3 separate regions of the Homo sapiens genome follow, and regions 2 and 3 are each linked to region 1. The links come from fine-mapping of genetic effects on gene expression. A gene starts in region 1. Each other region holds a variant in brackets. All regions are shown on one strand. Distances are from middle to middle. Region 1 holds the start of GSDME (gasdermin E). Region 2 overlaps GSDME (gasdermin E). Region 3 overlaps GSDME (gasdermin E).

What was found. PIP is the estimated chance that this variant, and not a neighbour inherited with it, causes the effect.
Region 2: its variant is fine-mapped to the expression of GSDME in whole blood (TOPMed, PIP above 0.99).
Region 3: its variant is fine-mapped to the expression of GSDME in thyroid (GTEx, PIP 0.94).

Annotation. Positions count from the first base shown.
Region 1 is chr7:24,756,023-24,758,780 of GRCh38, forward strand. GSDME (gasdermin E) reads right to left here and starts at 1,442. Exons shown (of 10, transcript NM_001127453.2): 1 at 1,374-1,442. LOC124901820 (translation initiation factor IF-2-like) reads right to left here. Exons shown (of 3, transcript XM_047421177.1): 2 at 1,640-1,915; 3 at 302-1,547. The coding sequence ends at 834. RefSeq lists silencers at 992-1,041, 1,052-1,631, 2,442-2,591 and an enhancer at 1,712-1,941.
Region 2 is chr7:24,715,520-24,718,277 of GRCh38, forward strand. GSDME (gasdermin E) reads right to left here. Exons shown (of 10, transcript NM_001127453.2): 5 at 1,735-1,855. Among named protein-coding and RNA genes, the nearest start is that of GSDME, 41 kb to the right of the region's middle. RefSeq lists an enhancer at 2,161-2,748. The variant TTAA/T (reference allele first, on the strand shown) is at 1,248.
Region 3 is chr7:24,721,961-24,724,718 of GRCh38, forward strand. All of the region lies in intron 3 of GSDME (gasdermin E), which reads right to left. Among named protein-coding and RNA genes, the nearest start is that of GSDME, 34 kb to the right of the region's middle. RefSeq lists an enhancer at 2,424-2,758. The variant CT/C (reference allele first, on the strand shown) is at 1,175.

The DNA.
Region 1 (2,758 bases):
CAGCCCAGTACCTGAGCTCATTTTTAATGAGAAGACAAATTAATATTTCATCATTTCTTTCTAAAATAAAAATCGGTATGTGAACGCAATGATGGTCATAAGACAGGCAGGAGCTCGAAAGGAGAAGGAGAGTGAGGCGCCAAAGGCTTTGGGGAAGTGGAGTGGGTAACAGAGGGCAGTCTGGGTAAGAATAGAGAAGATGCGGTGTGGTGGCAGGCACCTGCGGTCTCAGCTACGGGTGTATGGGAGGATCCCTTGAGCCCAGGAATTCAAGGCTGCAGTGAGCTAGGATAGTGCCACTGCACTCCAGCCTTGGTGACAGAGCGAGACCCTCTCTCAACAATAACAAAGAACCTAGCCAAGGGACCGTGGCTAGGGGGTTGGGCCCTTTCTCTCTCAGATCTACCTAATGGTCTGGGCTCAACTTCTCCTTTAGAAAAAGAGCTTGGTGGTGGTAGATTGTGAAGACAATTAATTTCACTCTTCAGCTGCTTCTCCAACCCCACAGCACTCCTTTCATTCCACTTGGACTTGCCCCACCTGCCTGCGTCTCGAGGACAGCGACCGCAAGCCATCCATCCCTTTCATTATCCCATTCACTATTCTGGACAGAGTAGACTCTGGAGGAGTGGGTGGTCGGTGTGTTCAGTCCACAACCAGCGCTTTTCTAAGAGGTGCCCTCTAGTCTTTCCCCTCGGGGTGCAGACGGCAAGCGGCTCTGGAAAGGGTCAGAGGTCCTCAAATGGAGACCAAAGGAAGCCACGCGGGCAGCTCTTGAGAGCCATTCCAGCGCATGCCAGGCACACCGAGTGGGGCTTGGCCTCCTCCCCAAGCTAGGAGCTCTCTAGATACCGGAGCAAAGTGGAGGGGGACTTTTTTCCGTCCAGAGAGACTGAACTCCGTATCTGTTCCGCGGTCCGCCTCCCTGCACACACGCCCCCGAGCCGGGAGAGCCTCCGCAGCACCCAGAGAAGAGACCGGAACACAAAGGATGAACGAATGGGGAGGGGGGGTTTGGGGGGTTGGGAGAACGAAAATACCAGCTGCGCTTCCAACATCCAAGGAAGGAAGTGGCAGCGGGGACGGGGAGAGGATGGGAAGGGGATGCTGACTGCGAGTTGGGGCGGGACGCGGTGATGGGAGGGGACCGGGCCGGGAATGCGGGAGGCGAGGGGAGCGACGGGACCTGCCGTTCCGGCGGCCGGGCAGCCAATCGATTCGTCTCCCCTAGGAAGGAGCGAGGGGAGGGTGGCCCAGAGAGAAAGCGCCGCGCGGCCTCGGCTGCCCCCGGCCCGGGACACCCAAACAGACCAAAGAGGATCCGGAGTGGAGCCCGGAGCGGATCCCGCAGCCCGCGCCCGCCGCGCACTTACCCGCGCGCCCGCTGCTGGGTCCCCGGCAGCCGCGCCCCCTGCGCTGGCGGAGTCGGAGGAGCCTGCGCTGGGCCGGCGGGGGGCGGGCGCTTGGGGAGGGCGGAGAGAGGGCCCGCCCGCCGGGACCTTTGCTCGGTCCGGGCGCCCCAGAGCCGCGGGACTGGCCGCCGGAGGCTGCGGGAGGGGCCCGGGCCAGACCTCCCAGAAGCCCCAGAGAGAGCCGCTTCCCCTCCTTCGTGTGACTCTCTGGGAGCCGGGTTGCTGACGGCCCAGCGCTCAGCCGGAGTCCCCGCGCGCTTTTCGGGACTCACCCGGGAGATGTCGGGGCCTCTCGGGAAGAGTGGGCTGCGCCTGCCTTCCGCGGCCGCCTCGCCTCTTCGCTGCGCGGGACCGTGGGGTTTGAGAGCGGCGCCTCCTCGCGGGGCCGAACCCGCCACCCACAGTGGAGTGTGGACTGACACCGCGGCCTCACGGTTCAACCAGGAAAGTCCAAGGCCTGTCCAGCCTGTGGGAGCCCCTAATGCCCGTGCCTGGAGTAGTATCTGGGTGTGTGGTGCGACAGTGCCCACACTTAGGCCTGCCGCTAATCAGTGATTCATTCCTGTAAACTCCACTCTAAGCTCCTTGAGGGCAAAACCAGGCGCTCTCACACACTGGGTGCTCAACGAATACTGAACGAGGGAATCTCAGCATAGCTGGTGCTCAAACATTGCTTTCTGATGAACTGACTTAAATATTAGCTCTTTTTGTAACATTAGGACCAGCTGAAACCGATTAACCATTACTTAAGTTGTTACAGCGAGGCAGAGCCAAAATCTCCCGGGCGTGTGCAAGAGGGAAAGCTTTCTAATTGTGAACACCGCGCGCCCCGCAGAAGGCTGCATTGGCATCACCTGGGACTGGTTAGAAATGCCAAAAACGCCTGACCCGCTCCCAGGTCCAGAAGACAGATTTAAGCTTTGCCTCTTGTCTCCTTGCCAGTTGACTGGCAATAGAAGTTTTTCTTTTCTCAAAAGCCTGTGCCACAGTTTGGTTTCTGTGTGCCTCAGGTTACGAGCCCATTGCTCAGTGACACTTTCAGTCAGTGTATCGTCTTCACTGTGCAATGCTCTCTACTAAGCTGAGAGCAAAGAGTAAGAGAAAATGAAATTTCTGCCCTGCGAGAGCTCACACAGTATGGAGTTGTGTGGCTGTCTTAAAGGCTGTTCGGGGAGGGCAGGTAGAGAAGCCCGGCAGCGCTTTCCCTTGGGCCCCGCTATGCTTTAAACATATCTCTAGATTGCAATTATCCACCTCACTGTAAAGCCTTTCCTGACTATCCAAATTAAAAGTGCTGCCCACCCACCCACGGGAACACCTCCTAGTTCCTCCTCTGCTTTATTTTT
Region 2 (2,758 bases), 41 kb before region 1:
CACCACTGGCCATCAGTAAGACTGGACAGGACCACCAAGGCAGACATAGGGGGGCTAGAAACCCAAAAGTGCAGATGGTGACCCTACTTACCACATACAGATAACAGAGACTAGAAGAACAATTTGATCCTCTTCATGATGCACTTTTTTTGGAAGACAAGTCTTTTCAAAGAGAAAGATGACAATAATAACGAAAACGCCCCAGAGGACACAAATTTGGAACTACGGGCCTCAAGGAAGCCACAACACCTGGTATTCTCAGCATTTCTTGGTCCCTGACAGACCTCTTTGACCAACTGCTTCAAACTGACACTTTCTCTTTCTGTCACCTCAGATAAATCATTTCACCGCCCTAAAATGCAGGCTTCTTCATTTGCAGAATGAGAGAGGGAGACTCTGTGCACTCCTTCTGTGCCTCGCCTGTTTCTCCTAGGGATCCTCAACACCCTTCAGCTTGTGGACAGCAGCACACGAGGACACTGAGCATTCTGTTTGAGTCCCTCTAGTGGCTGCTGAATGGCGTAGTGACTCATGTGGGCTTAGCGAGGGCAGGAGCTGTCTCACGGGAGACTGCCCCCCACCCGCCTTCCACAAATGGGGGAGAAGCAGGAGGCAGCAGCAGGCATGTGCGTGGTCTATCACGGCCCTTTTAAAAACTGCTGTTACAGAAAATGTCAAACTGCACAGGAATAGAGAGGAGGAGCGTGAACCAGCGTGTGCCCATCAGCCAGCTTCAGCCACTGTCCCCTCTCAGCCAAGCCTCCTTCCCTCGGCAGCTGCCCATGCTCACACCCTTTATGCTCCACTCATATTATTTTTGAATCAAACCACAGACATATTACCATTTCATCCGTGAATGTTTCAGTGTACATCTCTCAAAGATAGGATGACTCATTTTTATAAATATAACTATAATACCATTGTCACACCTAAAAAACTTCACAATTTATTATGTTACATTTACCCACTCATGTCCCTAAGGAGCGGTCACACAGCTTTCATGAGTGAACACAACCTCTTCTCATTGGGAACATGAGGAGGGAAGGGGCTGTGAACACCTAAAGTGAGCAGACACGCTGAACCAAAGCTTGGATTTTCTTCCGTGACAACAGCTGGGTCTCTGCGCTTTGAACACACTCGTGATCAGCAGAGGAAAGTCAAGTTCAGCATGTCTGGCTTCATACTTGTGGAGAGGAGGTGGGGTAACAATAATGATGATAATGCTATTAATAGCAAAGGTGGAGGAA[TTAA/T]TAAATGACCACTGTGCCAGGCGCTTCATAGGCCTCATCTCATTAAATCTTCACACAGCCCTGTGAAGAAATGCCCTTCACCTTCCAGAGACAGGGAAGCCAAGACTCAGCAAGATTCAGCAACTTGCCTGAGACCTCATAGGACATCATGGCACCGGGGTTGATGCCCAGTGTGTCTGATGCAGAGCCCAGGTTGATGCCCAGAGGACACAGCCCAGCCCTCTACTGTGCTGGTGGAACTTTGCCCCACACCAATGTTGGAGGAGAGGGTGGCATTGCTCCAGGCATCCCTCACCACACCCCTCCCCCAGTGCAGCCCATGTGTCCAGGGACCATGTCTTGGGACAATCTACGCTCTTCAGACCTCTTTCCCTCTCTTCCCACAGTCTCCAAAGCAGTCGAGTCCTCTGGAAAGCAGTCAAGTCCCTCTGCTGAGGGATCCTCTGCTGGGGATCCCTCAGCACCCATAGGAGGTGGCACTCACCGAACTGGCCGTCCAGTTTCACGTATAACTCAATGACACCGTAGGCAATGGTGGTGGCAGCTGGGATCTCCAGCACCACGTTGGAGTCCTTGGTGACATTCCCATCCTCCGTCGCTGACACCTGTGGGCAAAAGCGCACACTCCCACCTGTGCACTCGGGCTCTCCAAGCTGCTCTGTTCCCCACTGCAGCCAGCCTCGTGCCTTATACATAAGAGATGCTGAGCAATGTCCACAGAACCGAGTGGAACAGAGGAGCCAGCCAGCATGGGGGATGGGGGGATTCAATCCTTGTTGGCATCAGTACACAAATTCCCAAGTAAACGGCCAACCTGGTGGCATCAAAGCGAGATTATAGAGCGTGGGATACAGTGAAGTTAGGTCTACAGTGCTGTGCAAAGATCATACGATACGTAAGATCACCTCCCAATTCCCTCCATCACAGGTTATGGAAACAACTGAAATCCTAATGAAAACCTTAAACAGTAGCCAAGTTGGACTGGGAGAACCTAGCTGAGAGGGCCCCCTACCCCGTGCATATCACTCCAGACCCCTGTAGATGGTGCACAGTGCTGATAAAACCAGGAACAGAGAGGGAAGTGGGAAGAGGCCGGAGGGAGGAGAGGCAGGAAATGCCAAGAAGTCAGGCACCAAGCTCCTGCCTTTAAACACTCTCACAAACAGGACCCCTTCCCACGATGTCCTGGTGAGAGGAAGATGAGAATCTATTTGTTGGCCAAACACTGGCAATCAGAGAACTTTTCTTAGCAACTTGATCCTGGTCAGAGTGTGTTGCTTTGGGTTGAGAAATGGCAGCTGGCCTCCTGACTCTGAAAGGCTTCAACACTTTGGCAGGAAGTGACTGTGGCAGGAGCACCAGCAGGGCCGGCCTGAGCCATCTCCCATCGGCGCCTCCCTCGCTGCTACCCAGCCCCAACCCAGTAAGAGTGCTGGCCCCAGACCTCTACCTCCAGCTCCTTCCAAATACAACTTTCTGAGTTCCTCTAGAAAAAGCCAAAAGTCATC
Region 3 (2,758 bases), 34 kb before region 1:
AGCATTCCCTGCACCCCCATCATGCTATCACACCCTAAGATCACTTCTCTGGAGAGCACATTTCCACAGGATATTTTTCTAGCTCATTCATTTATCTGCTCATGGCCTGCCTCCTCCATCAAGAATATAAACCCCACAGAGGTGGTGAGTGTGCTCTCCTGTTGACTGCATATCTCAGGGCCAGGATCAATGCCTAGTACGTAGGAAGAGCTCAGGAAATATTTTTGGAATAAATGAGTAAATAAAACTTGTGAGGTTTTTTCCTCTATTGGTTGAATGAATGTGTACATATGTATTTGTGCATCCACGTGTGAAAGACAGAAGACACGGAAGATGGGGGAAATGGAGGATCTGCAGCTTGGATCAAAAAATGGTGCATAGCAGATGCGATCTTCCTAAGGGATTGCATGTCTTGGTCCCATAGGCAAAGACTTTAAAGATAAAAGCCATTGTAACCACCGGTCAGAACATACATTCAACTGTTCCCTTTCCAATGGTCTCTTCCTTCTATTGCTCAAAATTCTAGCAGATTCTTGAACGTCTGTCTGTGCCCTCACAACTAAGGCATGGGCTCCTCCCAGCTAGACGCACGTCAGACACATCACCGCCTGGTGACGACCCCACAACTGCCGCCTTTAGGAGTCTGATGTGACTCTGCTGGATTGGAAATCACAGCCCTCCTACCCGCCCTAAACAGAATCCACTGAACACTGGACACTGCTCCTAGCCAGTGTGAAATTGTTTGAAAAGAAAAAGCTCAGCCTAGACTACTCAAGACTCCACTGCTTAAAATGCCCACCTCCCTCCAGAACCCCCACCTCAAACACCAAAAGAGAGGGGCAGCCATCTACGCAGGTGGGCAGGCAACTGCCTGCTGTATCCGATGACAGGGCAGTCCTGAGACGCTTGCTGAGTCGCTGCCTTCAAAAGGTCTCTGTGGGGCGGACCCACCACAGCGCAGGAACAGAAGCTCGCCCAGGGACGGAGACTGTCTCCAAGGCTAGGATTCGGGTGACCAGAAACGTGTCACACAGCCACAGCTCATGCAGGCCACTGGGAATCCTTCCCTGGGCAACCAAGGCAGGGCTGCCGGAAACTGCAGGCATCATCCACCTAGCAGCAAACACTTCCACCCAAGTCACTGGGATTCTGTTTCCCAGGACAGTGCTGCCAC[CT/C]TTTGGAAACCAAATGCTGGAAATATTTAATCATCTTCAGTTAGGAGAGGCCCCACAGGGACAGCGGGGAAGCTACACATCAGGGAAAATGGATTTTTCGTTTGACTCTCTGAAAAGCAATCTCGGGAGGGAATTCTTCCCCATCTCCTCCCTCAGTCAATTCCACCAAGCCCCAAGCAGCCCCAGGGGGAGAGCTGGTGTCCCCTGGGGACGGTGTTCTCAGGTGCAGACCCAGAACAGTTCAAGGTCACCAGACCCTGGCTCTGGCCCTCCTCAGAACAGAAATCACCATGCAACAGGGCTCCCCTGTGCCCGCCTAGTGCAGAAACCAGCCAAATTTCAATGCAATTTGTTTACTGTATAACCTTATATATTTTATTATAAGCATTTAAAGAGGCCCATGGGTTTCTTCAACTGCTAATAGAGTTCATGAAACAAAACATTTAAAACTCTCAGTTGAGGGTTTCAGAAGAGTTTAAAAAAAAAGAGCCTAGAGAGGTTGATGGTAGTAACCAAAGTCACACAGCTGTGAAGCCCAGGTCTTTTACAATGGCCCACATGGCCATAGCACCCATAGCTGCTGTCTCCCTCTTCTGGGTGAGGGCACCCTTGGGCTGTACTAGGAATTGAATCTTCATCTCTATTAACTCTTGTATTGCTATGTTCATTTCTATATGTAAATATCTTGCCTATGTAACCAGACCAGTAGATGGAGGCTGGAAAAGCAAGTTATACCCAAGTCCTCTGGGAATCCTTATCAGAATATCCATGCCTGCCTGTTCTCCCCAAGCCCATCTCACTCTCCTCGTGGCTGCCGCCCTGTGCCATTTGACAGTTCTTCCCCAACTTGTCCTGATTTCTTTCCTCTCGGGCCCTGTGAGAGCCACTGAGCAACACAGACAGAATGGCTTTAGAGACACAGAAAACTATTAGTAGTGGTCGCCTCTTGGGTGGGGAACCAGATGGCGGGGAGGGGCTTTTCACCTTTTCTCTTTTGACCTTTTGACATTTAAACCATGTGAATAGATTGCCCAGTTCCAAAAAAAAAAAAAAGTATTTTAAAAAAAGGCCTTCTGGACAGACTGTAAGCTCCTGGAGGACAAAGTACTTGCTCTTTTTATTGGTGCCTAGCCCTGTGCTATCCACCCAGCTGGGGGATAAAATGAATGGTTTATCACATAAACCCGGGCAGGACTGGAATGAGACCCTCTCCCCAAGTCCAGCCAGGAGCCAATGCCCAAAGACAGGGAAAATGGAGCAGAAGCTCTTCCAGGAGAAAATGAACAAGCAGAGGTTCTTCATCCGCTTCACACATCTAAGGGCAGGCTCCTTGTTCTTCCTGGCGGGGGCGGCAACGTGAAAGCAAGAACAGGAGGCCACTGAGGCAGAGGCGTATATCCTCAACAGAAAGGGCCAGCCCCAAAGGAGCAAGTCTGGAGGCAGGGGAAGGGGGTGCATACTCAGTCGAGAAGAACTCCCTCTCCTCACTCAGGGGCTTGGCTCAACTCCGCCCACCCAGTTCTACTGTGAGGTTGCCCTTCTGCGCGTACCTGGCAGGTCGATATAACACAAAGACCTGGAGT